Linked DNA regions of Homo sapiens: regions 1 and 3 are each linked to region 2. Evidence: fine-mapped expression QTL. A gene starts in region 2. Each other region holds a variant in brackets. All regions are shown on one strand. Distances are between the middles of the regions.

What was found. PIP is the estimated chance that this variant, and not a neighbour inherited with it, causes the effect.
Region 1: its variant is the best candidate, but not a certain one, in a credible set for the expression of BORA in tibial artery (GTEx, PIP 0.58).
Region 3: its variant is the best candidate, but not a certain one, in a credible set for the expression of BORA in adrenal gland (GTEx, PIP 0.73).

Annotation. Positions count from the first base shown.
Region 1 is chr13:72,920,499-72,931,195 of GRCh38, forward strand. It overlaps PIBF1 (progesterone immunomodulatory binding factor 1), which reads left to right. Exons shown (of 18, transcript NM_006346.4): 14 at 10,667-10,697. Among named protein-coding and RNA genes, the nearest start is that of KLF5, 130 kb to the right of the region's middle. The variant G/A (reference allele first, on the strand shown) is at 5,137.
Region 2 is chr13:72,722,832-72,733,528 of GRCh38, forward strand. It overlaps BORA (BORA aurora kinase A activator), which reads left to right and starts at 5,092. Exons shown (of 12, transcript NM_024808.5): 1 at 5,092-5,176; 2 at 6,095-6,262; 3 at 8,450-8,556. The coding sequence starts at 6,110. It overlaps MZT1 (mitotic spindle organizing protein 1), which reads right to left and starts at 4,798. Exons shown (of 3, transcript NM_001071775.3): 1 at 4,693-4,798. The coding sequence starts at 4,771. RefSeq lists silencers at 4,244-4,303, 4,259-4,440, 4,964-5,113 and enhancers at 4,534-4,603, 5,324-5,373.
Region 3 is chr13:72,802,596-72,813,292 of GRCh38, forward strand. All of the region lies in intron 5 of PIBF1 (progesterone immunomodulatory binding factor 1), which reads left to right. Among named protein-coding and RNA genes, the nearest start is that of PIBF1, 26 kb to the left of the region's middle. The variant C/T (reference allele first, on the strand shown) is at 5,182.

The sequences.
Region 1 (10,697 bases), 200 kb after region 2:
AAAGTCCACATTTGAGTTCATAATGGATATTTGTAAAGAAAGCGGTGGCTTTGCGCTCTTTTTATGTTTATTTAAGATAAAAGCAGTATAACCTTTGAGAGAATTATATGTAATCCTTCACATTTGAAATTAAAGGATTGGAGCCAGACGCACTGGCATGTACCTGTAATCCCAGCTTCTGGGGAGCCTGAGGCAGAAGGATCACTTGAGACCAGCAGTTTGAAGCTGTAGTACACTATAATTGCACCTGTGACTAGTCACTGCACTCCAGTCTGGGCAACATAGAGAGACTCCCATCTCTCAAAAAAAGAAAAGAAAAAAAAAATCAGTGGAAACTTAAGGCGAATGATAAAACAACTCAGTCAAAACAGTAAATGAACTATATGCAAAATAAAGTTTTCATTGTACATCAGCCTATACCAAAATATATTAAAGTTTCAAAGGAACCTATTTTCCAACTACTACACAATAGATTCCATTCATATTAAATTTGATTTAAAATCTTATATGTTCAACAACCAGAATTAGATATTTTAGGGTAGCATTTAATTGGAAGGAGATTTCTGATTTGTTATAACAGTAATGTTTATTTTATTTTATTTTTATTTTTATTTTTTGGAGTTGGAGTCTCACTCACTCTGTCACCCAGGCTGGAGTGCAGTGGCATGATCTCGGCTCACTATAACCTCTGCCTCTCAGGTTCAAGCAATTCTCCTGCCTCAGCCTCCCAAGTAGCTGGGACTACAGGTGCATGCCACCACGCCTGGCTAATTGTTTGTATTTTAGTAGAGACAGGGTTTCACCATATTGTCCAGGCTGGTCTCGAGTGATCTCAAACTCCTAAGCTCAGGCAATCTGCCCACCACGGCCTCCCAAACTACAAGGATTACAGGCATGAGCCACCACACCAAGCCATGTTTATTTCATAAAATTGGAAAATTACTGGTAATCCTACCATCCAAAATAACCACTCGGAAATGTATACAGATATATATATATACTTTCTTATTTAAGATATTATTGCTTGTAATTTAATAGTTTAATTTATTGTCATAGAATTCCATTGTAAACATTTTCTTATGTCATTGGATATTCTTCAGAAAGGTCATTTTTAATGGTTATCCAAAACGTTAATTTTTAGTACTTCCATTTTTGAGTGCTATATTTTCATTACTTAATTGTATAGTTACTGAAAAATATCATTAGTTGCCTATTGCAACCCAGGCAATACCACAAAATTAAAATGAGAAAATGGATGTGAAGTTCCTGACATAGAGTAGATCTTTAGTAAGTGCTAGGTCGTTACACCTTGATGTGTTTGTTCTTAAAGTAAATTACATAGTTAATTTTAGAGGAAAAGCCAGGGTTCTGAAATCTTTTACTAGGCACAATTTGAGTTTTCATTTAAGACGATATTGTTTTAAAATTATACAGAAGCCTCTTGAAATAATTAGCAGGGATACCCCCCAAACATGAAACTTTCTTTAGTATCAGTCCATTTTTAAGAGTCTCACTCTGTTACTCAGGTCGGAATGCAGTGGCACCATCATAGTTCACTCTCATCTCAAACTCCTGGGCTGAAGTGATCCTCCTTTCTATCTTCCTGAGTAGCTAGGCATGCACGCTGTACCTGGCTAATTTTTTTATTTTTTATTTTTTTGTAGAGACAGGGTCTTGCTGTGTTGCCCAGGCTGGTCTGGAGCTCCTGGCCTCAAGCAATCATCCCACCTCAGCCTCCCAAAGTCCTGGAATTATAGGCATGAGTCACCACACCCAGCCTATTTTTTAAAACTCTTTCTGGGACACAATTATAGAAAGTTACAAGGGCTTATACAATTAAAGTAGATTAAAATAAAATGGGCTCTCCTTGACTAAACTTGAAAATCTGAAGTAATGTTTTCCTTTCAGTTGTGATTGTTTTGAAAATAGCAAACATGATTTTCTAGTTACATGTTTTGGTTAAGCCCTTTAACCTGCCACACTAAATGGTGACACCCAGGCACTAACATGGTCTTTGTATATGCCTCTGTGTTTGTTTTGGCTAATCTGAATGTGGAGACTGTTCTGACGTTCTTAAACCTTTCAAATTGTGAGATTACTGCGTACTATAGTTTCTCTCGTTTTATAAAAAGCTTTAAGTTAAAACTTTCAGTTTACTGAACTTCATAATAAAAAAAAATAAAGCAGAGGAAACTAGCAAAATTTTGTGTATGACAAACATGTTTTCCTTTCCTTTATTCTCATATATATGAGTTCTCATTTTTGTCCTTGGGGAAACTTGTACTCATTTCATTTGGGATGGCTTTAGGAATAGTTCTTTAAAAAGTTGCTGCTTTTCTATTCATGATAAATTTGGAAGTGTAAGCCTATAGAAGAAACTAGCGACAGTCTCATGTAACTACAGATAATCAGCATGAGATCACTGTTTAGTCCTTAGTCATTTCCAGCTGAGTAGATAGTATAAGGACCAGCCTTAAGCTTTTTGAAAGTGGGATCCTTCTGGCACATGTCCCCTTCTTTGCAACCATCTTTGATGCCATGCTAGTAGAGACAGGACTCTGATCTACTGAAAACTGAGAAAGATCAAATAACTAATATAGCTAATAAGCATGCCTCACATATTCTTGCTCATTTCGAGTTTTGGTAATAGTAAGACACCGTACCAATACTGAAGAACCCAGAACAGAGCGTCAATCCTCCATTGTGCTTTGATATCTCAGATATAAACAAAACTCTGTCATGTCCACATTTGCTAGGCTAAAAATGTTAGGAAATTGTATGTAGTAATCAGAAATACAGACTGCCATGGACAGAGCCAAAACCAATAACCTGTATTTGGCATCAAGAAGTGCTAAGAGAGCTAAAAGATAACCCTTGGAGGAATACTAATTTGACCAAGTAACAGGTGAAATTTTGGTTTAATATTTAGGTGTACAACCAATATACTGGTGGTGGTAGTTTCTAGCTGATATCAAACTTAATCTTGGTATAAGTGAAAATCATTTAAGCAATTAATGTATTAATTACAAAGAAGTATTGTATCTATTTAAGTGTCCCAATAGATAGCTTATAAAAAGCATTGCTTTCTTGAGAAATTCAGTACATTCTACACCAAAAATAACATTTAGCAAGAGTCATTTTTCCTGACCATGTTTATAGTTATTCTTCTTGAAGATCTTAGCAGGGCCAGGCACGGTGGCTCACGCCTATAATCCCAGCACTTTGGGATGCTGAGGCAGGTGAATCACCTGAGGTCAGGAGTTCGAGACTAGCCTGGCCAACATGGCAAAACCCCACCTCTACTAAAAAGACAAAAATTAGTTGGCATAGTGGTGGGCGCCTGTAATCCCAGCTGTTCCAGAGACTGAGGCAGGAGAATTGCTTGAACCTGGGAGGCAGAGGTTGCAGTCAGCCCAGGTCACGCCATTGCACTCCAGCTTGGGCGACAAGAGCGAAACTCTAACTCAAAAAAAAATTTTTTTAAATAAAGATCTTAGGACTTGTTTTCATTGTATGTTTATTGTGTTAAGGAGGCATAAACTCAGCTGTAGTTGAGCAGTTCTTCATTTGTCTTGTTTTGAATTTCATTTAAACACTCTTCTTTCTTCCCACTTGTAAGATCCCAGACTTCTAAAGAGGATCCACCTATAGCACCAAATCACTCACCAAAGCAATATGCCCACTTAAAGTTTTAGGAGGTTGAATATAGAAGTGGTGAATTGGTATCTAAGACATTTGCCTTCTTCTTTGTGCACTTTTTAATTGCTAGTTCAATGCTTAATACTGAGCATTAGTTGTACTTTATTTTTTTTCTTTAATTGCCCATTATTGGCAATAGGTGTACCTTAATGTTGAGGTGCTGCAACTTCGGAGTATGGTTTCTAACAGTGTGTTCATTTGAACAAAATGCACTTACAACAAGATCAGTCCAGAGGTACTTATCGCTATGCACATGTCTCACGCCTATAATCCCAGCACTGTAGGAGGCTGAGGTGGAAGGATCACCTGAGCCCAGGAGTTTGAGACTAGCCTGGGTAACAATGTGAAACACAGCCTCTACAAAAATTTTAAAAATGAGCCAATCACCCTAATGCACCTGTGGTCCCAGCTATGTGGGAGGATGAGCTGGGTCACTTGAGCGCAGGAGGTCAAGACTGCAGTAGCCATGTTTGCACCATTGCACTTCCTGGCCTGGGCAATAGAGTGAGACCCTGCCAGAAAAAAAAAAAAGAAGATTTATTAAGTACCTACTCTGATAAGCTCTACAGTTAGATACCACAGGGGATAAGACTCCTGTCATTTTATGAGTTGCATCTGTTTAGGGAGAAATGATTAACATACATGAAAGAATATATAAACTTTAGTACTATATCATATGTTGGGTTAGGCTATGTCAGTCAGAGGAATAGAGATCTGTGAAGGCTGGCACAGTCAAAAATGGAGGAAGTGGAACTCGACGGGAGCCTTTAAAGAAAATCTTCAGACTGGAGGACCAAGAAAAGGCAGTGGAAGGAATACAGAAAACATATTTGTGAGACGTTAAGTAGAGTAGACATGAAGGGCAAATAAGGTTAGTTCCAGTGAGATTATAGAGGGTCTTGATATTTTTAAATAATTTAGAGATAGAGTAAAACTAACCATGAAGGTCAGATTTGAAAGTGAGTGGGAACAGGATATAGACATCAGTTCACTATGTAAGAAATACAGATGTCTGACAAACATGAAACAATGCTTAATCTCACAAATAAATTTAATTTAAAACAGGATTTTATGTTTATCTATAAGGTTAGCAAAACTTCCAAAGATTGACAATGCTCAGTATTGGTTGGGTTATGAAGAAACAGGAGATATGAATGAACAGGAATTCATTCATTCAATAGATAATTTCTAAGTACCTCCTTTGTACCAGGTATTTATTGTTGAACTGTAACAGGTTTTTATATTTTCTGGATTCAAGTCTCTTAACTGATATGTGATAAGAAATTTTTTCTTCCATTCTGCAGATTGTCTTTTCACTGTTTTTTTCCTTTTTTCTTTCTCTCTCTTTTTTTTTTTTTTTTTTTTTGAGACGGAGTCTCTGTTGCCCAGGCTGGAGTGCAGTGGTGGAATCTCAGCTCACTGCAAGCTCCGCCTCCC[G/A]GGTTCAAGTGATTCTCCTGCCTCAGCCTCCTAAGTAGCTGGGATTACAGGCGCCTGCCACCACACCCAGCTAATTTTTGTATTTTTAGGAGAGACGGGGTTTCACCATGTTGGCCAGGCTGGTCTCGAACTCCTGACCTCAAGTGATCTGCCCACCTCAGCCTCCCAAAGTGCTGGGATTATAGGCATGAGCCACCGCACCCGGCCCTGTTTTTCTTTTTCATGACAAAACTGAAATGGTTAAAATCTTTTTACTTTCTTAATGGTGCATTTTGAAGCCCAGAATTTTAAAATTTTGATGCAGTCCAGTTTATCCAATTTTTTTTGTTACTTATGCTTTTGCTGCCCTGAGAATCTTTTGCTAAATCTAATTTTGTGAGGATTTACTCATATGTTTTCTTCTAAAAGTTTATAGTTTTAGCTTCTGTATTTAGGTCTTTGATCCATTCTAATTAATTTTTTGGTATCATATGAGGTAAGGGCTTTGTACTGTTTATTAATGTGGCTACTAGAAAATTTTAAATTGCATATGTGGCTTGCATTATATTTCCATTGGACAAAGCTGACCTAGACCAGTGGTCTCCAAACTTTTTGATACGAATTTTTATTGGGAAAAAATTTGAGTACACACTCAGCAATATATGCATATGTATTCATATTTATTTATAGATTATGTACGCATGTGCTATCATATGAATAGTATGCACATAATGATATAAAACCTACACAGCAAATGAAAACTTAAGATAATTTAACATTAAAATAAATGTAAGTAAAAGTTCCCACAGTTCAAGAAATAATTTTGCACATAACTACTTTTAAAGACCACTGGTCTAGATTATGATCATAACCTTCTAAATGACTGTAGTCTTCTTCCTTCTGCAGGCCATCCTGCACACTACTGATAGAGCACTCTTTCTAAAGTGCGGGCCAGATCGTGTTATGTCTAACCAACTTCAGGATAAAATCCAAACATACAAGGCTTTTCATAAAATATCTCTGCCTATATCTCTCTAGCTTCAACCCTCACCATGCACCATATATTATTGATCTATACTCTACTACTTAGAATTTTCCCTAGCACTTCATCCTCTACATAGGCATTTCCCTCTACCTAAAATGCTGTTTCTCTGCTTCTTCACCAGATTAGTTAGTATAGTTTTTATTCCTTAGTGGTATGCCTTTTCTTAGCATTTAGCATACTACAGTAATTTTTAAATTTGCCTGTCTTCCTCAGTAGACTATTAGATCTTCCCAGTAGATATTATGTATTCTCAGTGCCTATGCAGATTATAGGTTTTTAATACATGTTTCTTCAAAGGAAGTGTTCATGAATATTTTTCGAATGAATTAATGAGTGTGTTTCTTCTAATTCACCCTGCTTTTCTGCAGTCATTGATATTCATCACCAAGAAAAAATAGTAATTTCCTTTTTTTTTTTTTTTGAAACAGAGTCTCACTCAGTTGCCTAGGCTGTAGTGCAGTGGCACGATCTTGGCTCACTGCTTACTGCAACCTCTGCCTCCCGGGTTCAATAGATTGTTGTGCCTCAGCGTTCCAAGTAGCTGGGATTAAAGATGTGTGCCACTGTCCGGGCGTGGTGGCTCACGCCTGTAATCCCAGCACTATGGGAGGCCGAGGTGGGCGGATCACGAGGTCAGGAGATCGAGACCATCTGGCTAACATGGTGAAACCCTGTCTCTACTAAAAGTACAAAAAATTAGCCGGGCCTAGTGGCGGGCACCTGTGGTCCCAGCTACTGAGGAGGCTGAGACAGGAGAATGGCGCGAACCCGGGAGGCGGAACTTGCAGTGAGCCGAGATCGCGTCACTGCACTCCAGCCTGGTGACAGAGCAAGACTCCAACTCAAAAATAAAAATTAAAATAAAAAAAAGATGTGTGCCACCACACCCAGATAATTTTCGTGTTTTTAGTAGAGGTGGGGTTTTGCCATGTTGGCCAGGCTGGTCTCAAACTCCTGGCCTCAAGTGATCTGCCTGCCTTGGCCTAATTTTTTTTTACTGTTTTTGTTTTACTGTAAGTATTATAATGATGAAAAACAGTTATATTTCTTGTTTCTGCTGTGTTCTTTTGCTTAAATATATCTTTATATTTCTTTTCATTAAATCTTAATATAATCTCTTATATCCTTAATAATACAATCTTAATAAATCTGAGTATAATCTTTTAATGAAAGATTTTATATTATCTTTTGTTCTTTTCTGTGTATGTGTGTTTGTACTACATTAGTGGGCTAAATGGGTCTTTTAGGGCAACTGAGAACTTTAATACCATTTCTAATATATGTGTGTATATATATATATACACATATATATATATATACATATATATATACACACACATATATATACATATATATACATATATATACATATATATATATATATATACATATATATATGAGGAAATGTGTTTTACTGTTCTTACAACTGACTTAGAGGTGAGTTTTTAAAATGTGAACCCCATATATACTGGAGACCAATTGTACCATGTTGTCTTCTACATTATTATCATTATGCATCATAAATGACATCAACAGTCATACTAATACTCACGGTCCTTCCCGTCACCATCAATTCTCAGAAAGTTTTTCTCAGTAAAATTGTACTATAAACTAGTAATCAAAGCACTGTAGAGTATATTTGTAAGCAATTTGAAGATACCTTAGATACTTTCCTTCTATTTAGAGTTGATTTTCCTTACTTGGAATCTCCCAGTCAAAATCAGGGAAATTCCTTTTTGAAGAAAGTAGTCCTGGTGTTAAGGCTTAAGCACTAGCATACCAAGAATTTCTTTTTTTTGAGATGAAGTCTTGCTCTTGTCCCCCAGGCTGGAGTGTGATGGCACCATCTCAGCTCATTGCAACCTCCGCCTCCCAGGTTCAAGCGATTCTCCTGCCTCAGCCTCCTCAGTTGCTGGGATTACAGGCGCCTGCCACCACGCCCAGCTAATTTTTGTATTTTTAGTAGAGACAGGGTTTCACCATGTTGGCCAGGCTGGTCTTGAACTCCTGACCTCAGGTGATCTGCCTGCCTCAGTCTCCCAAAGTGCTGGGATTATAGGCGTGAGCCACCTCACCCGGCAAGAATTTCTTGAGTCAGTGTTTTATGACTTATGATATTTTTATTGGTAAGCGGTATCACCCTATCTGTATAAGAACATTATAGAATTCCCAAACAAAATAAAAGCACTCAAACCAAATGAACAATTTAACATTATTAAACTTGATGTCTTCAAGTCATTATCTTGTTCAGATTGTTGGTAATATGTGACCTCTGCATCTCATTTTCTTGCATGTCTTTGTCTTCCATTTCATTCATTTGTAACTCTAGTTCTGTGTAATTGCATTTGATTGTGTTTATTGTTCTATACTGAGTATACACATACTTGTTCTACACCTTCAACATATTTATTGAAAAATTACCATGTTTAAGTGACCCTAGTGTGAAGTTCTGTGGGACACAAAAAGATAAAAAAAAGTTAACACCTAACATGTATGAAGAGTAAGAAAGCAAGAATAAAAATGTGAATAAAGATAGCTCCAAGATTTTTTAATTAACCTAATAAAAATAGAGCTAATGATAAACTGATGCTTGCAAACGTATAATGGAATCAACGGATTTTAAATGCAAAATTCACATTAAGGCTTATTTTATTTGTAGAAATCTTGTTATTTTAGGGTCAAATTAGAGAGAACTTAGTATATTTTTATTGGGAAATGAAGAACAATATAGTCATAAACTGTAAACTCCTTAAAAATTTATAAAGAGAGAAAGATTAATGGTTCCCTAAGGTTGAATTTGAGGAGCAAAGGAGGAAGTTGGAATGTGGGGAGGATGGAGAGTGACTGGTAATGGACACAGAAATTCTTCTTGAGATAATGAAAATGCTCTAAAATTAGATTATAGTGATAGTGGCACAACTCTAAATATACTAAAAATCATTGAATTGTACACTTTAAATTGGTGGACTTTATGATATTTAAGTTGCATATCAGTAAAATTGTATGTCAGTAAAGTTTAAAAAAAAAGTGGTTGTCAAAAAATGAGGACTGTATGCTTTTTCCATCTCTAATGCCAGTTGAAAGAATTTTAGATCTAAACAAGCAACTCAAATCACTTTATAAACTTTTGCCAGAACTCATCTTTTTTATTTGGTATGAGTTCTTAGAAATAGATATATAGAATGATATTTAACACTATTTATTATTATTATTATTTTTAGAGACAGGGTCTCTGTGTCACCCCAGGCTGGATTGCAGTGGCACAATCCTAGCTCACTGTAACCTCGAACTCCTGGGCTCACGTGATCCCCCCATCTCAGCCTCCCAAGTAGCTGGAACCACAGGCATGCACCATCATGCCCAGCTAATTTTTGTATTTTTTGCAGAGGCAGGGTCTCACCCTGTTGCCCATACTGGTCTTGAATTCCTGGCCTCAAGTGATCCTCCTGCCTCAGCCTCCCAGAGTGCTGGGGTTGCAGGCATGAGCCACCGCGCCTGGCCTTAACATTATTTTTTAGAATGTTGTCTGCATTTCTTTATCTGATATTGGGAAATATTAAAATACAATAGAATTTTTTCTGCCCTATGATTTTATTTAAAGCACAGTTATCTTACTTTTTGTCATTATAAAACATTCCATCTAGGATTCCATGGATTCTGCAATTCACAGATTAATAGGTTAACTAGTATAAAATATGAAAATATGATAAATATGAAAATGTTAAGTTACTGGAAATGCAGAGAGGTTCTTTGGAGCAATATGTCTTCTCAAAATTATTAGCAGTTCTTTAAAGAAATATACCACTTCCTCCCACCATAGTTAGAAGGAATAGATTTTATTCTTAAAATTGTTTCTTAAAAGTAGAATTGAGATGTTTCATATGTAATTTTAAATACTAAAGGTCAGTGCAATAAGTTATGGTAATGCAGAGCATCAGAGGGAGTGATTTTTTTCTTTTAGTACAGAAGCTTAGCCTTTACTATAGACATTCTCTAAGTTTTATATATCTTTTTCATCTCCACTTTCAATTAAAAACCTCATTTTTGTTTTATATTATAACATGCATTATGTTGTTTAAAGTAAACTCTGATACTTCTCAAAGTGATAAGCTAATTATTGTTTGTAATATTTCAACTAATTTTCTGATTTGTAATTGGAAAATATTTATAAAAGTGGAGACAAGCTGTAAATTGCTGTATTGTGGTCTTTTCAAGCAAGTGTTATAATGTTACCTCTCCACTTTTATAGCAAGGGCTAAAAACCGTTACTGCAGTAATCAGTCTATCACGGTTATGTTTTAATGTTGTTACTCTCATAATTCTGAGTTGTGGGGTATTGGTCTTCCACTACTGGTGCCTGAAAATATTATTTGACTCTATATTTTTTCTGTTAATATTTAAGTATAATTAGGAAATGATGTCTATTTTCAAGTACACAAACACATTTTGAATATTTTGGGCAGTATTTCACTTTTAAGCATTAATTTTCTTATTTCATTTGCCTAGTGTTCACTTGGCAAGAAGAGTGCTTCAATTA
Region 2 (10,697 bases):
AGGTCTATCCTGATAATTATATTTTCTTACTATTTCCTATTTTTTTATATGCTTAGAGTTTCAGCAAGTGCTCAATCTACCATATTGAATCTTCACTTTATTTTTGACTGTCTTCACAAATGGATTCTACTTAGCCCTTGTACATTCTAAGTGGTTACCATCAGTATACTGGAACACTACATATTAAACTTTTTAATCACCAGTCACCTTGATGAATTCTATGATGCTTCTAACAGTTTTTCAGTTGATTCTCTCCCTTCTCTCTCCAGTTTCCAGTTTGTTCTCTTCATGGTAGACCCCCCCACGTATAAAGGCTATGCTTATTCCTGACTTCATGCCTTTGTTCTTGCTTTTCTCCTCTGCCTTTTATCCTCCCTTCATATAACTCAATGCTGTTTTCTTAGTCCATCTCATTTGTGGTTTCTTCTTTAAGCCTTCTTTTCAAATGGACACCTATTTTTACTTCCTATTTTCACAAATCGCCTGTAATCAAAAACTATTTCTTTAGTGCCTACCATATGATCAGTACAGGTTGAACACTCCTAATTCCAAAATCTGAAATGTGAAATGCCGCAAAATCCAAAACTTATTAAGTACTGACATAACACCGTAGTGGAAAATTCCACACCTCATATAATGGATCAAAGTCAAAATGCAGGTGCACAATACACAGTTCATTCAGCATCCCTGAGGGAAAAAACCAAAATTACCTTCAGGCTATGTGTATAAGGTATATATAAAACATACAAGAATTCTGTGTTTGGACTTGGGTCCCATCCCCAAGATATCTCATTATGTATGTGAAAATATTACAAAAAAAAAAATCTGAAATCCAAAACATGGTCCCAAGGTTTTTGGATGAGAGATAATCAACCTCTAACTATATGTATTTTGTGCCTATTATGCTACTGCTGCAAATACAGTTATGAACAAGGTATATATGGTCCCACTCCTCACAGATATTAGTCCAGGAGGAGAGATAGATATTAAAGTAATAACTGATTCCAGATATAAGTAAAATAAATAAAGAGTGGAATACTTCTGAAACAAATTACAAGGGCATCTTACCAAGTTTGGAAGGACACAGTGTTTAGCAAAGACTTGTCTGAAGAAGTGACAATTACACTTAGACATCAAAAGTGAGTAGAAATCAACCAGACTAATACAGAGGCAGGAGGAAGGGTGATGGTTGAGAGCAAAGAAAACAGCTTGTGTGATGGTCCCTACACTAGAGGGAACTTGGTAAATTCAGACCTGAACTGCTATTGTGAAGGCAATGTAATTAACGGGGTGAATGGGTATAAAATATGAGGTAAGTCCTAGTGAAGATCTTAGAACTGTGGAAAGCTACTGGATGATATAAAATAGGAACATAAAAAAATCAAACTTGCATTTTAAGGACTTTTTGGCTGAGTATCAAATGAATCTTTAAAAAGTCCAGTTATATCACAATTTTGATAAAAGACTGGTGGGTAGGATGAACAGGAGATATTTAGCCAACCTGAAATGAGTCAAGAATTGAAAGGGCTTAGTGAAGAACAGGAGGCAGAGGAGGTGAGAAAGCAAGACTGACTTCTAGATTTCTTTCTCAAATGTGCAACTGGATTGATGGTGGTAGCATGGACTGTTTCGCTGGTACTGCCTTGCAGTGCTAGTCAAATGGAATCTATATACCATAGATTCTCTTAACTCCTTTCTCTATAACGTGTTTTTTTTTTTTTTTTTGAGATGGAGTCTAGCTCTGTCACCCAGTCTGCAGTGCAGTGGCGCAATCTCAGCTCACGACAACCTTCGCCTCCCAGGTTCAAGCGATTCTCCTGCCTCAGCCTCCCAAGTAGCTGGGATTACAGGCACCCGTACTTACTACTAAATATATATATATATATACATATATATATATATATATATACACATATATATATGTAAAGTGGTGCTACAGGCCGGGCACAGTGGCTCACGCCTATAATCCCAGCACTTTGGGAGGCTGAGGCGGGTGGATCACCTGAGGTCAGGAGTTCCAGACCAGACTGGCCAACATGGTGAAACCCTGTCTCTACTAAAAATACAAAAATTAGCTGGGCGTGGTGGCGGGCGCCTATAATCCTAGTTACTCCAGAGGCCAAGGCAGGAGAATTGGTTCCCATCCCCAGCTTCAACCTGGGAGGCGGAGGTTGCAGTGAGCCAAGGTCGCGCCACTGCACTCCAGCCAGACTCGGTCTCAAAAAAAAAAAAAAAATAGTGCTATGATAAAGCCTCTCATAAGGAATAATTATCAAAATTAAAATTCAGATGCACAGGACGATTTTAGAGGAAAATAAAAATTAAGGTATAAAAAGCAATCAATAGAGAGTACCTAACATACCAAAAAGTTGAAAAGCAAAAGAGGCAACCATACACAGTGGGTTGCGAGGGGGGTGTTGTTGAAAAGGCACGACTATTTTAAGCGTGTAGAATTTTAGGGATATAAGGATGAAAGCAGAGATCTCATGCAGACCTTATTCTAAATTGGCAGAGATAGTTCTTTTCAGAGTGAGGTGCACAGATAATTTATTAATAGAAAGTTAGCCTGCTTCCTTCCATGTCTTTAACAAAATCCTTTCATTTCATGATCAAAATGCAAATGTAGCCAAGAGTTCTGCAATTCACATGACTTAAAGGGAGGTTCACAAATGCTACCATTGAGGGGAGAAATGGTATTCAAAAAGTTTTGAAAATTTTATTTTTGATCTCACGGGTTGATTTAAATACTGTGTAACACCACATCCCCTCTCCTTCATTTTTTGTTTTACTTCACTTTTTTGTGTTCTTACTCTCTTTATAATCTTCATTTCACACCAAGTTTTCTCAGAAGAGATCTTGATGATGCAGCCAACACAAACCATCAGTTCTCAATTGTACATCAGTGATTCCACCAGAGAAAATGTGAGTTTTCTGTTCAAATGGGATCCTGTGGCCATATACATAAGGAACCTAAGTACAGCTAACCTAAGAAAATAGGCTAGAAGTGAGGTCTTATACTCTACCTTTTTCCAAGGAAATATACAAGACAGTAAATTTATATTTATATACACACACATATATATATTCATACATAAATCCACTTACAAAATAAAACTATTAAGTGTTGATACATCGAAAAGGATAGAAAAATAAGCTGAATATTAAGAGTAACATTCTCAGAAAAACAGCAAGGTAGATACTGAACAAGTGAAAAATTAGATGCAAAGGCTCTAAAAGTGTAATTCTTTGAAAAGAAAACCAGGACCAGTGCAGAAAAAGCCAGCAGCCCCTCTGCAAGTGCTACATAAGAAAATGAGGCCGGGCATGGTGGCTCACGCCTGTAATCCTAGCATTTTGGGAGGCCGAGGCATGTGGATCACCTGAAGTCAGGAGTTCGAGACCAACCTGGCCAACATGGGGAAACTCCGTCTCTACTAAAAATACAAAAAATTAGCCGGGTGTTCTGGCGGGCACCTGTAATCCCAGCTACTCCAGAGGCTGAGGCAGGAGAATCGCCTGAACCCGGGAGGCGGAGGTTGCAGTGAGCCGAGGTTGCGCCATTGCACTCCACCCTGGGCAACTACAGCAAGACTGTGTCTCAAAAAAGAAAAAAAGAGCCTACGGTGAAGGAGAGAGAGATACAGCAGTGAGAATTTCATAGGGTTATCTTTTAACAGAGACGGAAGCTGACGTGAGTAGACCCTGGAAAACGTCTAGGCCCACTGCAAATAACAACATCGATCAAACACTCATAATACAGGTGGATGTGAGTAAAAAGGAGACAAAGAAAGAAGACTACAAGAGAGAGGCCATCTGAAATAATATAAAAATAATTGATCATCTTTGATATGTTTTTACATGGTTGTCTTATTTAAATATTCACAACTCCTGGAGGTAGGGTTTTATTTTACAGAAAAAAAAAAAAAAAAAACTAAACAGGCTCAATGATGTTTAAGTATCTAGTCCAAGCTCACCACAGGGGCATAAAGTGGCAGAACCGACATTAGAGGGTAGACAGAGGGTAACCGCAAGACACAAATTTCGTGTTCTGCAACACTTGTGTAGGCTTCACACACACGTGCCTCCGGGGCCGAAAACAGGCGACACCATAGCACTTGGGCACTGGTGTCACCCGCTTCAAGAGGAAACTAGGATAATTATGACCAAAGGGGAACTTGTTCATTCGCCGGATATTAAAGGTGCCTACTTAAGTGCGAAGAACAGGAGGCATAGCGGTGACCAAACACCTGGCCCCTGTCCCCGCCGGGATCCCAACCTTGGGGACCCCCGAAGCGCCCCGGGCGGGAATCGGGTGGGACGCGGCACGCAGGAGGGAACGGGTGTACTGGGTGGGGTGGGCGTGACGCTGTCACCGCAGGAGATCGGGCGGGTAGGGCGGACCTGGGATGCGGGATAGAGGGGGCGCGGCATTCGCGCGAGAGGGACGCGGTGCGCAACCGGCTGACTAGGGGCCGCAACGCCTAGCGCGCGCGACAAACTACGCAGCGGCGGAGACAACTCTCAAGGGATAGGGCCATCAGCCCTGCGGCCCTGGCAGGTCCCTACCAAAGATCTTGGAAGATGCCGTTTGGGGCACTAAGGGGACCTGAAGTCCTCCCCAGGCTCATTCCCGCCTGGGGGCCTTGGCTCTGGGAAGGCACGCAAGGTAAAGGGAGCGCAACGGAAACTCACCGTCCATGGTCTCCCGCACCGCATTCAGATTCGCCGCCGCGGCCGCCGCCGCCGCCCCAGCACCGCTGCTACTCGCCATGGCTAAGGCCGAGGGAGGCGGGAGAAGGGCCTGACCCGGAACTGGAGCGCCTTCCTCTCTCCGAGGCAATCACACAGCGCGTCTCGGCCCACGCCGGGCAGGCTCCGCCCCTCGCGCTCGCCGCCGGCGTGAGGCTGCGTTGATTTGAATTTGGAGCCACGTTCCTCTGCGCGGAACGTGGAGCGAGGAGTTGCCATTCGAATTTCCTACGCGGCCTCCGTGCGATTGGCTGGTTCGCGGATGGCGGGACGACACGATTGGCTAGTCGCTCACAAGCCCCGTGCCCTGGTTGGCCCAAGACAGCGCGGAAGCGGGGAGTTAAAGAGTCTATGCCTGTCGTGGAAGCTGGCCTGGCCCCCGGAGCTCCCTGGAGTCGGTACTGGGGGCTTCGTTTTGTACGCACCGGTAGGTACGCTCTTTGTGGTCCCTGGCCTTTCCTCCTGTCTGAATGGAGAGGTTTCTTTTCCCAGCTCCTGACTTGCCTGCCCGCTCGCCCCTGGTGAATGGGAGCAGTCAGGGAGTAGGTGTGGAAGAGAGGGGCACCAGAAAGAGTGGCCACGTAGGGTTGGGGGCGACGCCTCCTTCGCACTCCATCCAGGGAAGCCGGCTGCATCTCAACCTTCCAGAAGTAGACTCTTTTCCACCCCACCCCGCCAAGGTGTAGCCTCTGTAGCCTCCTTTGATTGCAAGTAATGCAGTCTCCCTTTCTATCCCGGGAGGGGTGGAGGGGAGGTCTTGGCGAAAGGAGGATTTTTGGAGGAAAGGGGACCCCAGGCAGTTAATTTCCTAGCCCCTGTCAATCATACTTCTCTGGCTAGGACTCATGTGCAAGAAAGGCACAAGCTTCCTCATCTCTTACCTGCTTGCTACAAAGAATTGTTTAATAGCAACTGTAGTTGGATAGGGTATCCGAAGAATGTTCATAGTGTTGAGACATGAGATGATGAATTTAAAAAAAATTGTAGCTATAAGTCCTTTAGTTGAGAAGAGATCTGGGCCTGTTGTAACCTTTAGTTTCCTCAGAGGCAGATCTGAATTCATTCATATTTGATTGCTGCGTATAAGCCACTTCACTTCTCTGAGCTTAATACTTTCGCAAAATAATATCACTAGTAAGTTACTGCTATAGCTTTCAAGGTTGTTTCGAGGATCAGTTGAGAACATTTATATGTGATACTTTTTTTGTAAGCTGTATCATAGCCCCAAGAGTGTGAGGTTTTGAGTTGTTTTTTGTGACACATTTGTCGAGTACATTTTAATAGTTAAAATTAATATCTATGGGACTTTGTAATTTTAACATGCATACTCTTGATTTCTTTTTAGTTTTCTCTCTGTGCTATGGGAGATGTCAAGGAATCAAAGATGCAAATAACACCAGAAACTCCAGGAAGGATCCCTGTTTTAAATCCTTTTGAAAGTCCTAGTGATTATTCTAATCTCCATGAACAAACTCTCGCCAGTCCTTCTGTTTTTAAATCAACAAAATTACCAGTAAGTTATTCCTGACTAGTGTTTACAACTAATTTTAAATGTAAGTAATTACAAATAATTTTAAATGTAAACATCTGTCTTTACAAGGTAAGGAGGAAATACATTATGGAGCATATATAGCTGCAATATACTTTTTTAAATTGTAGTGTTCATTATAATCTAGTGGTTAGGTTAATAAGTTAGCTAGAAGATTTTTTTTTTTTTAAGTTCAAGAACATACGTTAGCTTCCTGCAGTTGTGGGTGTAGCTACATTCTGTGGTTGACGATATAGCTACTAATACATTAGAGAAGAAGCTGCATCATCTAATATTCTGTTCTCACTTATTTGGCAAACATTATTTGAGTGTTGCTATGTGTCAGATACAGTGCTAAGCAGGGATTACACTGTGAACAAGTTAGGATCATTAGGCACAAATCCTTAAGGAGGTTATACTCCGATGTATGGGTCACAAACTTTCTGTTAGGGGCCAGACAGTAAATATTTAAGCTTTACAGGTCATTTGGTCTCTGTCACAACTACTCACTTCTGTCTTGTATCACAAAAGCAGCCATAGGCAATGTGTAAAGAGATAAATGTTACTCTGTTCCAATACAGCTTTATTTATGGACACATTTGAATTTCATATAATTTTCACATGTCACAAGATATTTTTTTGTTTGTTTTCCCAACCATTTGAAACTGTCAAAATAATTCTTAGCTTGCAATCTATTATAAAAAGAAACTAACCCCTATTTTAATGTGTTAAACAGAACTAGATGAGTAATATCAAGGCAGTGTGATAGGTGATATGATTAGTACTTAGGACAATAGTAATATGAAGGAAAAGTGTTCTTCAGGATATTAGAAAAGGCTTCATCACTTTATCTTTTTTTTTTTTTTGGTAGAGATGGGATTTCACCATGTTGGCCAGGCTGATCTCGAACTCCTGACCTCATGTGATGCACCCACTTCAGCCTCCCAAAGTGCTGGGATTACAGGCATGAGCCACCATGCCCGGGCCACTTTATCTTATTTTACTGTTATTTGCTACACTGGATAAGTTCTTTTGACCTTGGATCTTTCAACCTACCAAGTTACTTAGAAAAACTGCAAATAGGGTGGCTGTTTCTGCTACACTTTCATACAGGTTTTACAATGAGCAAGTATGTACTAGTGGAAGGTCGAGCAGTTTATATTGAGTCATTTCATCAATCTGACCTTATGATTTTTAATTGAATCATTAAAATTTATCTCTTGGTCTTACTAAAAATAAATAATAGATTGACGGCAGCTTAATCCTCAAAGTTGGAATGTATGGCATCTTGCGTTTTTAGGACTGAATTTGCCTAGAATATATTTCTAATTACAGATTAGGATTTGGATAAACCTTTAATTCAGTTGCATGGTTGAGTACAGAAAGGCAGCACTGGTTGCCATTCATAATTATTTTAAGGATCAACTATGTTGTGAGCTTTTGCAGCCACCTCCAAAGTGACTAAGGACTTTAATTTCAGTTCCTTCTTAGTGAAAGTAAAGACGTTTGTTAACTGTGAGAGATTTTTACTTTTACATGGGCTTAGTTTATCACACTGATGAGTGTTAATTGTGAAAGTTTTATATCTTTATTACTCTGTTGTGATTTTTCTCGTATTACGTAATTCCAACCCAGGTGAAAGATTCTGATATTTTAAAAGAGATACAGGCTGGGCGCTGTGGCTCATGCCTGTAATCCCAGCACTGCCAAGGTGGGCTGATGACTTGAAGTCAGGAGTTTGAGACCAGCCTGGCCAACATGGTGAAACCCCATCTCTACTAAAAAAAAAAAAAAAAAAAAAATACAAAAATTAGCTGGGTGTGGTGGCGGGTGCCTGTAATCCCAGCTACTCAGGAGGCTGAGGCAGGAGAATCGCTTGAACCGGGGAGGTGGAGGTTGCAGTGAGCTGAGATTACACCAGTGCACTCCAGCCTCGGTGACAGAACGAGACTCTGTCTTAAACAAAGAGAGAGAGAGATACAATTAAGTCAGTTGATCGAATGTGATATGATTACCCTTTGCCATTTAATTTCATGGTAAAGTCAAATTTTAAAATACAAGCTTTAAAATATTTTCATATTATAACCATTCATATTATTTCTCACATAGGTTAGCATTTTGATGAACTATTTTAGTTTGCCTTTACTCATAAGCTCACTTTCTTTTGTTAAGACTCCAGGGAAATTTAGATGGTCTATTGATCAACTAGCTGTAATAAATCCTGTAGAAATAGACCCAGAAGATATTCATCGTCAAGCTTTATACTTAAGTCATTCTCGGTAAGTTTTCCTTTCTTGCACCTAAGTCTAATAACACTCTCAAGTGAAGAGAGGTAGGAAATTCTAAATGTTGAGTATTTTTCTATGTAAAGGTATCAGGGAGAAAAAATTTTGATGCAGATTTTTTCTATCTAAATGAATGAGTTCAAAGAACTACATTCAGAAAGATTTTCTTGCCAACAGTTCCAGACCTGAGTAGATACCTTTTTCTTTTACAAGTAACCTTTTCCCTCTGCTACTGAGGTGACAGCTCTGTACCCCTAGCACTCAGTTAAGAGAAGAACATTTTGAAATTTGCACTTTTCTACATGGTTGTGGCTTCTGCCATTAACTTGTTTCAGTTTGTCTTTTTGATGATTTGGGGTAAAGCAAAATGCTGTTTCATTGTTATCTATGTTTGGGGAAACCTAAAACCCCCTCAAAGAGTTACGTATGCACTGAATGGAAGGGTATCCATTAGCAACAGAGCGGTTTTTTAGACATCATCCAACTGTAACAATTCACTTGGAATCTGAATTACATTTTCTAGAATTCTACATATCACCCAGTGCAGTCTTATTTGTTGATGTGTTGTTTAGGTTTCAAGGCACTAATGTACTGCAGATTTAGTTTTTTATTACAAAGTGTAAGGTCCTATTATTCTTTTGTAGTTTTAGGGACTCTTGTTTATATGTTTTATAGTCTGATTTTTTAATATTTGAAAAAAATCAAATACATGGTATGACCAGATTTTAATTTGCTGTCCTAAGGTAGACATGTTGTTAGTCCAAAACAAAGGATAATCCTTTTCCCTTTGACTTAAGAATTCAGTCACACAACGTTGCACACATATTGAGATATTCTGGTAAATACTTACTGGCTTTTCTCCTCCATCTTCTCTTTGCTTGGTAACATGATGACCATTCAATCATAAAATTAATGTCCACCCAGAGTGTTAATAGGAAGGGAATAGAATGAGGATGAAGCATGAAAGGATTTTAACTTAAATTTAAATAATACCTTTGAGGCCAGGTGTGGTGGCTCACACCTGTAATCCCAGCATTTTGGGAGGCTGAGGCGGGCAGATCACTTGAGGTCATGAGTTCAAGACCAGGCTGGCCAACATAGTGAAACCCCATCTCTACTAAACATACAAAAACATTAGCCGGGCATGGTGGTGCACACCTGTAATCCCAGCTACTCGGGAGGCCGAGACAGGAGAATCGCTTGAACCCAGGAGGCAAAGGTTGCAGTGAGCTGAGATCATGCCATTGCACTCTAGCCTGGGGGACAGAGCAAGACTCCATCTCAAAAAAATAAAATAAATAAATAAGTAAATAAATAATACCTTTGAAAGAGAAGGTGAGATGAATATCTAAAAGCAAATGAGTCACAGTGACTAATTTTTTGTTTCACACGAACTTAATTATGCTTAATTATTTTGTCTCATTTCTTCAATATATTGAATGATGGACAATTATTATATTGATCAGTCAAGAGATACTTATTGAGTACTGTGAGGGACTGTAAGAAACACTGAAGAAGTACAAGATACTAAGAGTCAAGAGTCAAAAATATAATTAGACCAAAGTTGTAACACAGTGCTTCTGTTCTTACTACTAAATGATATATTGTCTGCAAAGGTTTATAAAGATAATCTTGGTGTCTCTTAGTACATAGATTTATCATATAGAAGAATGGAAAAGAGTGGGAAAATATTATAATTTAATTTAATAATATAATTCAATGAATGGTTATGGCTTCTACCAAGGATAGTCAATATATTCTTCACAGAGCATCTCGTTTCATCCTTAGAAACAAGCAGTGTCTTTCAGTATCTCTTCTTACATATTAGCCCTCTACTTCAATTCTTCCCATCCTTTTCATGCCACCATCCACACAGAAAATTGTAACTGAAAAGCATACCAGTGTAAGCAGGTGAGTCTTGGCCATGTAGGTGACCAGTCCTGAGGTCCCCTCTCCTTTGCCACCCTGCAAAGGCTCAACATTCAGGCCACACCTATACCTATATGCATCATACTGGTGTTCAGTGGTATGCTGGTCAGGATGCTCTCCCCTGTATGACTTCTTAGAATCTTGTTTGATCTGACTCTAGAGTATTTGGCCACAGTGATTTTTACAGTTTCCAGCAATCACCTGAG
Region 3 (10,697 bases), 80 kb after region 2:
TAGATTTCTGTTCAGCTGAGATAGGTAGGTTGTGAATGAGGCCGACTTGAGTGCAAAAGAGTGTGGATCTTAGACATGTTGAGTTTGAGAGATCTGTTAGATGTACAGTCAAAGGTATGTGGATATACAGGTGTGAACTTTAGAAGATAAGCATTCAAGAGTCATCAGCATAAAGACGATATTTAAAGCCAGGATGAGATTACCAAAGGAGAGTGAGTGTAGGGAAGAGAAGGAAGACCACAGCTTGAGCTCCAGGGCACTTCAACATTGAAATGTGGGAGAGAGAAGGAGGAGTTACCAGTGAAATAGGGAAATTAAGAGAATTTTATGTCCAGGAAATCAAAGGGCAAAAGTTTGTCAAGGAAAAGAGAGTGATCAGCTGTTTCAAATGCTGTTGATAGGTACAGTTAGATGAAGACTAAGAATTGACATTGTATTTAACAAGGTCATTGAAAACCTTGTCAAGAGTAGTTCTGGAGGAGGGATAGGGTCAGCAGTTTGATTACAGTGTTTGAGAGTGAATGGAGGAAATAAACTGGACATAGAGTATAGACAACTCTTTCTGAGTAATACTACTGTATAGAGGAACAAAGAGAGTTGGCAATTACAGGAAACATGGAGCCAGGGAAGGCTTGTTTTTTTTTTGTTTTTTTGTTTTGTTTTTTGTTTTTTGTTTTTTTCCTTAAGAGAGATGACAGCTGTTGTATTTAAAATCACATTGTAACCATAAAAATTTTCTCATTGTCGACAACGGTAGAAGGACATTCATGTAATTGTTAACCAACAGTGTAGGTAGTACTGTTGGATACCCAGTTATAGTTATGTTTAAGGCTCCCCACTTTAGTGCTATCCGTGTAATAAAAAGAGTCATGTATATTTGGGGTATTGCCAATAGTATGTGTTTCTGTGATTATGATATTTGGGGAAACTACTAGAACAGAGGGGTGTTTGTTGATTGAATTACTCCTGATTAGTTCTGTGGGACTTTCTTAATATCTAAATAGTGGTTTAAAGAATAATAATTTAGTAAAGTGAGATAATTTATCTCTTAATAGCTAGAGTTTTAATTATGTCACAAAAAGTTGAGTTTCGATTTAAAAAACAACTGAAGAATATATTTATAAGTGAGTAAGGAAGATAGAGAATGTTATGACCACTAGAGGAGGGTTTACAAAAAGATCTGGGTTATTTAAATGAGGCTGGGGGAGGTTGAAGAGGTGATTGGACACTGTCAGGTTACTGAGGTTCAATTGTCATCAGTGAGAACCATTGTCTCTAGACTTTTAAAACTAATCACAAACCCCTAATTTATGAAAGTGCTAAATGAAATTGTCAGTTTTTCATTTGAAGTTTTCTGTTTTTTCTTCTGTTACTTGGAATGTTCTTATCTGAGTGTTTTTTGCCCAGTGGTATTTCATGTTTCTTTCCTCTTCAGTCTGTGGGCTGCATATATATACTTATTGTTGGCCTGAAGCAGACAATAAAAACAGAGAAATGCCCATCATATCCAAAGGAAGTAGCAAGAAAATTTCGACTTTTCCAATGGTGTCATTAATTTTAAGTTTCTTGACCCAAAAGAGTAAATTTTCCTCTTAACTATAGTGGGAGAAAAAATAATATATTTTCCTCACCCATTGCAAGGTTTATGGCTGAGACTCCAATAATAAAAGAGTAATAAGAGAAAAGCATAACAAATTTATGTATAATTTATATGTATAATTTAATATAAATTTTATGTGACATGGGAACCTTCAGAAATGAAGACTAAAAGACCCAGGGAAAATGTATTTTTGTGGATTGTCATGCATAAGTATGATTGGAAGACAAAAGTGTATGATCTGATGGTAATCAACTGGGAGAATTTAGCAAGGCTTGTTTGTTCACATTCTTCTTGGGCTGTCTGTGACATTCCTTCCCATTAGGTATAGGGCAGGACGCCTGTCACCTTAGGGGAGAGGGGAGGGAGAAAGAGAGTGGCCTTCCTAGGTTTGATGACCTGCTTCAAGGGAGAAAGAGGCAAGGGGAATTTTCATTTATGTGGCCCACTTCAAGAGAGATGGGTTGGGAGAAGGTCAGGGAGACCCCCCTGTTTCTGCAGTTTTCTTAATTTCCTTCAGGTTAAAATACTCAGTATGCCAGGGTGCCATGTTTCGAGGTGTCTGTTCTAAGTCCTAACAGAGGAATTAATATTTTATTTTGTAGTGAACAAATTGAAAATATATCCAGTAAAAGTGTGTACACTGATTCTGTTTTCCTAAATTTGACAAATAAAAGGAAGTGTTACTTTGTTCAATAAGTGTTCAATAAGTAAGATACACTGCCATAGTAAGTTTCAGGACAAGGTCCATGATATATAGCTGCAACCACCATAAAGTTACTAAATTTTTTCTTTTTTGAGCCAGAGTCACACTCTTGTCACCTAGGCTGCAGTGCAGTGGTACAGTCTCGGCTCACTGGAACCTTTGCCTCCCGGGTTCAAGCGATTCTCCTGCCTCAGCCTCCCAAGTAGCTGGGATTACAGGCACCCACCACCACACTCAGCTAATTTTTGTTTGTTTGTTTTTTGAGATGGAGTCTCGCTTTGTCGCCCAGGCTGGCATGCAGTGGCACGATCTCGGTTCACTGCAAGCTCCGCCTTCTGGGTTTACGCCATTCTCCTGCCTCAACCTCCCGAGTAGCTGGGACTACAGGCACACGCCACGACGCCTGGCTAATTTTTTGTATTTTTAGTAGAGACGGGGTTTCACCATGTTAGCCAGGATGGTCTCGATCTCCTGACCTCGTCATCCGCCCGCCTTGACCTCCCAAAGTGTTGGGATTACAGGTATGAGCCACCACACCTGGCCTGAAGTTACTAACTTTTAATAAGACATGATCCAAATTTTTCATATGACATTATTCAAAAGATCTTCATAAAGTGATTCAACAAATATTTTATTCTTCAACTCATACTTATTTAAGGTTGGATATTTTAAGATAAACAACATTAGTCTTATTAATGACTTTATGTAATTTTAAAGTTGGATACAATATAAGCTTTGGGGAAAAAAACATGACTAGATGGTATTCACCCAAGAATTTTAAGGGACTTAAAGGATGAACCTGAAACTGCAGCACATGTATAATATTGCTATCAAACAGAGCACTTGAAGTAGGTGTAATTGCTTGAAAGCTGGTAAATTGCCTGCCTGAGTCTAGAAACTAAAGACCTCCACACTTAAAACTGATAAAGCACTCTTTTATGCTTACTGAGCTTGTGTAATGCATGAAGATTAGGATCAGTGAATACTTAGGCAAGTTAAATACTTCCCCTTATGGGGGAAGGTCAACAGAGTGGTACAAATGGACAAATTATATTTCACATATATATAAAGAGAAAATAGAGAACAAATTATATAGACTTTCAAAAAGCCATTGACAGGTTTTAAATTCTAGCTTTTAAAAATTGGCAGGCTTTTAAAAAATTACAGTGAATAACATAACATTAAATTTAAGACTTTATTTTCATGTATACAATTCAGTAAAGAATACTCACATTGTGCAACAGATCTCTAGTACTTTTGTATGTTGCAACACTGAAAACTACCCACTAGACACTGATTCTCCCTCTCCCCTCCCCCAGTCATTGGTAACCATTTTTTAACTTTGTTTCTATGATTTTGATTAGTTTAGATTCGTCATATGAGTAGAGTCCTACAGTATTTGCCCCTTTGTGATTGGTTTCAATTAGCATAATGCCCTCAGGGTTTATCCATGTTGTAGCATGTGACAGAATTTTCTTTTTTTTTTTTATTGTACTTTAAGTTCTGGGGTACATAGGCACAACGTGCAGGTAGTGTTACGTAGGTATACTCCTGCCATGGTGGTTTGCTGCACCCATCAACCCGTATCTACATTAGGTATTTCACCTAATGCTATCCCTCCCCTAGTCCCCCACCCCCTGATAGGCCCCAGTGTGTGATGTTCCTCTCCCTGGTCCAAGTGTTCTCATTGTTCACCTCCCACTTATGAGTGAAAACATGTGGTGTTTGGTTTTCTGTCCTTGTGATGGTTTGCGGAGAATGATGGTTTCCAGTTTCATCCATGTCCCTGCAAAGGACATTAACTCTTCCTTTTTTATGGCTGCATAGTATTCCATGGTGTATATGTGCCACAGTATCTAGTCTATCATTGATGGGCATTTGGGTTGGTTCCAAGTCTTTGCTATTGTGAACAGTGCCACAATAAACATGTGTGCATGTTTTTATAGTAGCATGATTTATAATCCTTTGGGTATATACCCAGTAATGGAATTGCTGGGTCAGATGGTATTTCTAGTTCTAGATCCTTGAGGAATCACCACACTGTCTTCCACAATTGTCTTTCACAGTCAGGTTGAACTAATTTACGCTTTTTTTTTTTTCTATTTTAAGGTTACATAATATTCCATTGTGTGTATATACCACATTTGCTTTATCCATTCATCTATAAATAGATACCTGAATTGCTTCTACCTCTTGGGAGAAATGGGCAGACTTTGTAAGAAGTGTTATCATGAATTCTCAGGAAATTGTTTTCTCTTTAGTAGGTGAAGGATAAGAGCCAAAAAAAAAAAAGGAATAAAAAGAACTAAATGAAAAACAAAAATAGAAGTATTCTTCAGATACAACTGTTAAATCCAATCTTATTCATTATTTAACATTTTAATACATTTATTGGGCTGGGCACAGTGGCTCTCGCCTGTAATCTCAGCACTTTGAGAGGTCGAGGTGGGCAGATCACCTGATGTCAAGAGTTTGAGACCAGCCTGGTTAATATGGCAAAACTCCGTCTCTATTAAAAATACATAAATTAGTCAGGTGTGGTGGCAAACACATGTAGTCCCAGCTACTCAGGAGGCTGAGGCAGGAGAATCGCTTGAACCTGAGAGGTGGAGGTTGTAGTGAGCCAAGATTGTGCCACTGCACTCCAACCTGGGCAACAGAGCAAGAGTTTGTCTCAAAAAAAAAAATTTAATACATTTATTGATGAGGAAGCACAAAGTATAATCTCAAGTTTGTAGACAGTAAAGTTTTTCTGAGCAGTGGAACACCAAACTAGTAGGGCAGATTGGAGGAAGGTCTCAAAAGGTAAGTGGACTGATTATAAATGAATGTGTTTTCTTTTTAATAACTATCAATCAGCTTATATTCCCAAAATTAG[C/T]ATGTTCAAAATTGATCACCTGCCCCAGAGTGTAATTTTTTGCCATTTTATTATAGAAATTTTCAAACGTAACTTGAATTTCACAATGACACCAGTATATTTATCAGTAAATTTCTGCCATTAACATTTTTATTGTATTTGTCTTATCAAATACCTCTCCATCTATCCATCTGCCAGTCACATTTAATTTTATGGGAAAATGCTGAACTTTTTTTTCCATTTGTCAGTAATTTCTTCCTTTTCATTACTGAGTGGTATTACATTGAATGGCTCTAGTTATTTACCATTTAATGGGCATTTGAGTTATTTCCGATTCAGAGACTTTACAAACAAAGCTCTGAGAACATTTGAGTATGGTTTTTTGTGTGGACATGTTTTTTCTCTTGAGTAAGTACTTAAGTGTGGAATTTTTTACTTCTAGAATTTCAGTTTGGTTATTTATTATAGCTTTTATTTCTCTATTTGTTTACTTATTATGAACATATTTTCCTTTACACCACTGAGAATTGTTAAAATAGGAGCTTTAAAATTCTTGTCTGCTAATTCCAAACACTGGGTCACCTTGGAGTTGATCTCTGTTGATTGTCTTTTCTTTTAGAAATGGGTCACATGTTCCTCTTTCTTCAGATGTCAAGTAACTTAAAATTGTTTAGACCATCGAGTAAGTGTAGATGAGAACATTGTGAGTATTATGTTGTTGAGACTCTGCATTTTATGTACCTCTAAACGGTGGTGATGTTCTTGTTTTAGCAGGAAATTACTTGGTTGTACTCAAACAGCATACTCTGTCTATTGGGCAGGTGTTCAAATTTCAGTTCAATTTTTTTTGGTATTATTGGGGCTGCTCAGAGTCTGTCCTACACATATGTTGTTTAGAGGGTAGCCAGATACTTAAGCAGAAATTACCCAGAGAATTCAGTTTCCCCTCTCTGGCTATCTCTGAAATTTCCTCCTCATTTAGAGCAGCTGCAGTTCCCATAAATACCAAAGATTTTCTCATGCACCTTGATCCATCCAACCTGGCACAGAATGGGACTGGCCTCAGGCTAAGGGCTACTAAACAAAAACAAAAAATACCAGGAAACTCACCTAAATGCTGAAAATGATAGCAATAATGACAACTCCATAGTGGTTTACTAAGAGAAACTAAGGTATTTGTTAGGCATATCTCTGAGTTTTGAGACCAGCAATTAAGAAAACAAATTTTCCATTTTACTTAAAAAGTTTATTCTCTACAGAGAGTTCATGAATCTGGAGAAAATAAAATTACTCTCAGTCTTTCCGTTTTACTTTATGGATCTTTCTTATCCAAAATGGTCTTAATTTTTTTCACCACTTGGGGGCAGTATATGTCCCTTTTTTTTTTTTTTTTTTTTTTTAATTAAACCTGTTGGGGGCTATTTGGAAAATGTGATTATTTTTGAGCTAGAGACCCAAAGCTTTACATTTAGTTACCTTATTTTCATTTATATTCATTATTTCATATAAAATGCCTGCAATCAATCACATAGTATCTTTTTCTAGTAAAATTTAATATATTTAGAACTTGGAGAATGGAGTATCAAAACAAAAATTTGTGTTCCATAATATGTATTCAGAGATGTCTCAGTTATTGCACTAATTTCATAATTATGCCTACCAGAAATATTGAGAATTTTTAATTCTGTTAAAACCAAAAACATTCAGGGTTTTAAATTCTGTTAAAGCCACATGAAATCATTAAAGCCACACAATTACACAGTTAATTTGACTCTGCTTTTGTTTGTATGAGATTAAAACTGTTTAAGAAATTTAATAGAAGGTTTTTTTTTGGTTTTTTTTTTTTTTTTTTTGGAGATGGAGTTTTGCTCTTGCCCAGGCTGGAGTGCAATGGCATGATTTTGGCTCACTGCAACCTCTGCCTCCTGGGTTCAAGCAATTCTCCTGCCTCAGCCTCCCGAGTAGCCGGGAGTACAGGCATGCGCCACCATGCCTGGCTAATTTTTGTATTTTTAGTAGAGAGGGGTTTCACCATGTTGATCAGGCTGGTCTCGAACTCCTGACCTCAAGCGATCTGCCTGCCCTGGCCTCTCTAAGTGCTGGAATTACAGGCATGAGCCACTGCGCTTGGCCAGAATGTGATTCTTGACCTTTAAAAGGAAATTACTCTTTCTGAAGTGGCAGTTTTAGTGGATTTCTGGGATTTCCTTTTGTAATTTTTTCCAGATCTTTAGTTATTTGCAAATAACATCTAGATACTATTATAACACTGGAAAATAGGGCTCATCTTTTACTTCAAGTCCGGAGTTTATTTAAAAGTGTCAGTAATGTAGTCTAATTCTGGCTTATTTTGAGTTACATTATGTATATGATCTTGTGTATGGTACTTTATGTTTATAAAAGTGCTTATAGATAACTTTATTTCCTATTTATGAATTTTCTCTATTAGCAGGTCAAAATTTTGGTTGATCACATGCAACTCAGCTATATGTTGCTGTTTTGCTATTATAGAGTTAGTTCAGCATGCTTTTTCATATCAAAAGGATGTGATGTTAGAGATACAGTGTAAGGCATTAGTGAATCTGCACTTAATAAAACTATTAAATTTCATGAGGAAATGGTGAAATATTTTTCTCTTATGAGAACTTTGGTAACTAGGAAGCAAGAAGAATTTTGTCAAGAGTACTTCCTTGTTTAGAAACATAGTTACATTCTTTAAAAAATTCTGCAAGATTATCTTGAGGTTCATCTTAAGTATTCATATGTAAGTAATTCAGTTAATTTTATTTGTATGAAAATGAGTTATTTCATTGATGAAACATATTTGTTTATTAAAGTTTTTATATTTTAGGGAGTGTTAACTGTTTTCTGAGATTTCTTTTTATCTTATCCAAGTGATGAGCTTAAAGTTTCTTTGTAAGGTACATATTTATGATGATACCCATCAGTTATAATTATCCTAGAATGCTTAACAAATTAGTAAACAGTGATAGATTTGCCTCTTTATATTAAATTTAAAATGTATAAGCATTGCTTAAAATTTAGATTCATAGCCACCTGCATGGGTTCTATTTTGGTCTGAGGTGGAACTAAGAACCTCAATTTTTTTTTTTTTTTTTGAGACGGAGTCTCGTTCTGTTGCCCAGGCTGGAGTGCCTTGGCACAATATAGGCTTACTGCAAGCTCCGCCCCCCAGGTTCACACCATTCTCCTGCCTCAGCCTCCCGAGTAGCTGGGACTACAGGTGCACGCTGCCACTCCCGGCTAATTTTTTGTATATCTTTTTAGTAGAGACAGGGTTTCACTGTGTTAGCCAGGATGGTCTTGATCTCCTGACCTCGTGATCTGCCCACCTTGGCTTCCCAAAGTGCTGGGATTATAGGCGTGAGCCACCGCACCCAGCCAGAACCTCAATTTTTAATAAACAACCCAAGATTCTAATGTGGCGGGTTCATGGACACTGACCACAAATCATTTTTTAAGCTATTTTTGTTAACTTATTAATTGAGATTTAAAAATAACTTTGAATTTTTAATTACATTTCCTGATTTGAAATTTATATATTGGCTGGGCACCATGACTCACTGCTATAATACCAGCACTCTGGGAGCCCAATGTGGATGGATCACCTGAGGTCAGGAGTTCAAGACCTGAACATCGGGAAACCCCATCTCTACTAAAAATACAAAAATCAGCTGGGTGTGGTGGTAGGCACCTGTAATCCCAGCTACTTGGGAGGCTGAGGCAGGAGAATCACTTGAACCCAGGAGGTGGAGGTTGCAGTGAGCGGAGATCGCGCCGTTGCTCTCTAGCCTGGGTGACAGAACAAAACTCCGTCTCAAAAAAAAAAAAAAGAGAGAGAAATGTATATATTAATGCCATTTCTTGCCGCCAATATAAAGTTAATATGTTTTAATATATTTAACATATTCAAGAATATAATTGAAGTCATACACTATTACGTTACAACTTGGACTTACTAAAATCCCTCTCTTGCCTATACCTCTAAAACCTCTAAAAAATTGCTCCTTCACAAACCTGTTAAGTTTTTACAAATAATACAAATGGCTTACGATAAAAGTGCATGAGGGAAAAAAAATTCATGGGAAAGCTAAAATGAATGCAATTTTAAGTACGACATAATTGGGAAGAAGTTTCATTTAGCTGATTGTTTTATACATGCTGTATGAAGAGACATAATCTTTTAAAGAGTCATAAGACTTTTTTTTCCCTTTGCTACTGTGTGTATAATCTTTAGTAAATCTAGGAACTTGTAAATTTTAGGGGCAAGTTTTGAGGGGCTTATTGGGTTTTGAGATGAAATTTTGAACCCAGTGGCCAAAAGGATGTATCACTACATGATGGCACGGGAAAACTCAGGAGGGACCTTACCAAATACTTTGGTTTAAATCCAGAGATACCATGATAACTTCGTTCTCTTGATCTGCATAGTGTTTCTAAGCCAGATTCCACAGATATGTTTTGGAGTATCTAAGAGTTCTTTTTGATAATTTTTAACTTTATGATTTAATTTTTTTAATGACCTCAGAAATTAACAGATGCATATGATGGTTCATCTGAATGAATAATTTATAATAGAGTACTATCACTATGATGTCATTGCCCATGTTTGCATTTAATTTTGTCATGGCATTAGCACCACAGATCACAGTTTAAAAAAACAGTAGTCAACTGTCCAGGCACAGTGGCTCACGGCTGTAATCCCAGCACTTTGGGAGGCCAAGGCAGGAGGATTGCTTGAGCTCAGGAGTTCGAGACCACCCTGGCCAACCTGGTGAAACCCTGTCTCTACCAAAAATACAAAAACTCCAGCCTGGCCAACATGGTGAAACCCTATCTCTACCAAAAAATACAAAAATTAGCTGGGTGTGGTGGTGCAGGCCTGTAGTCCCAGCTACTCGGGAGGCTGAGATGAGAGAATTGCTTGAACCTGGGAGCCAGAGGTTGCAGTGAGCCAAGATTGTGTCCAGCCTGGAAGACAGAATGAGACCCTGTCTCAAAAAACTACAAAAAAAAAACCCCAAAACAAAAACTTAGCCAGGTGTCGTGGCACACATCTGTGGTCCCAGGTAGGAGGATTGCTTGAGCCCGGGGTAGGGGTAGGGGAGCAGAGTTTGCAGTGAGCCAAGATCGCACCACTGTATTCCAGCCTGTGTAAGAGTGAGACTCCGCCTCAAAAAAAAGAAAGAAAAAAGAAAAGAAAGAAATAGCCATCAACTTAATTTGTAAGATAGGTATTTCAGCCAAATAAAGGCCAGGTGCTATCATGCATCACTGTATGAATAAAAGTTTCACAGTTCAAATAGAGAAAAATGATGACAATATAGAGTTGTCACACTACTGAGCATAGTCATGCCAAACTCAAAGCTAAATGAACTCCTACTTATTTTACTATTTTAAGGTTAAATTATATAGTCAACATTAACTACTGAATAGAATAAGCATTGCTGTTTAGGCTTAGTTGAAAGGAGGAAGTAAAGGGATTCTAGGAGATGAAAATGTGAATGCATGTCATT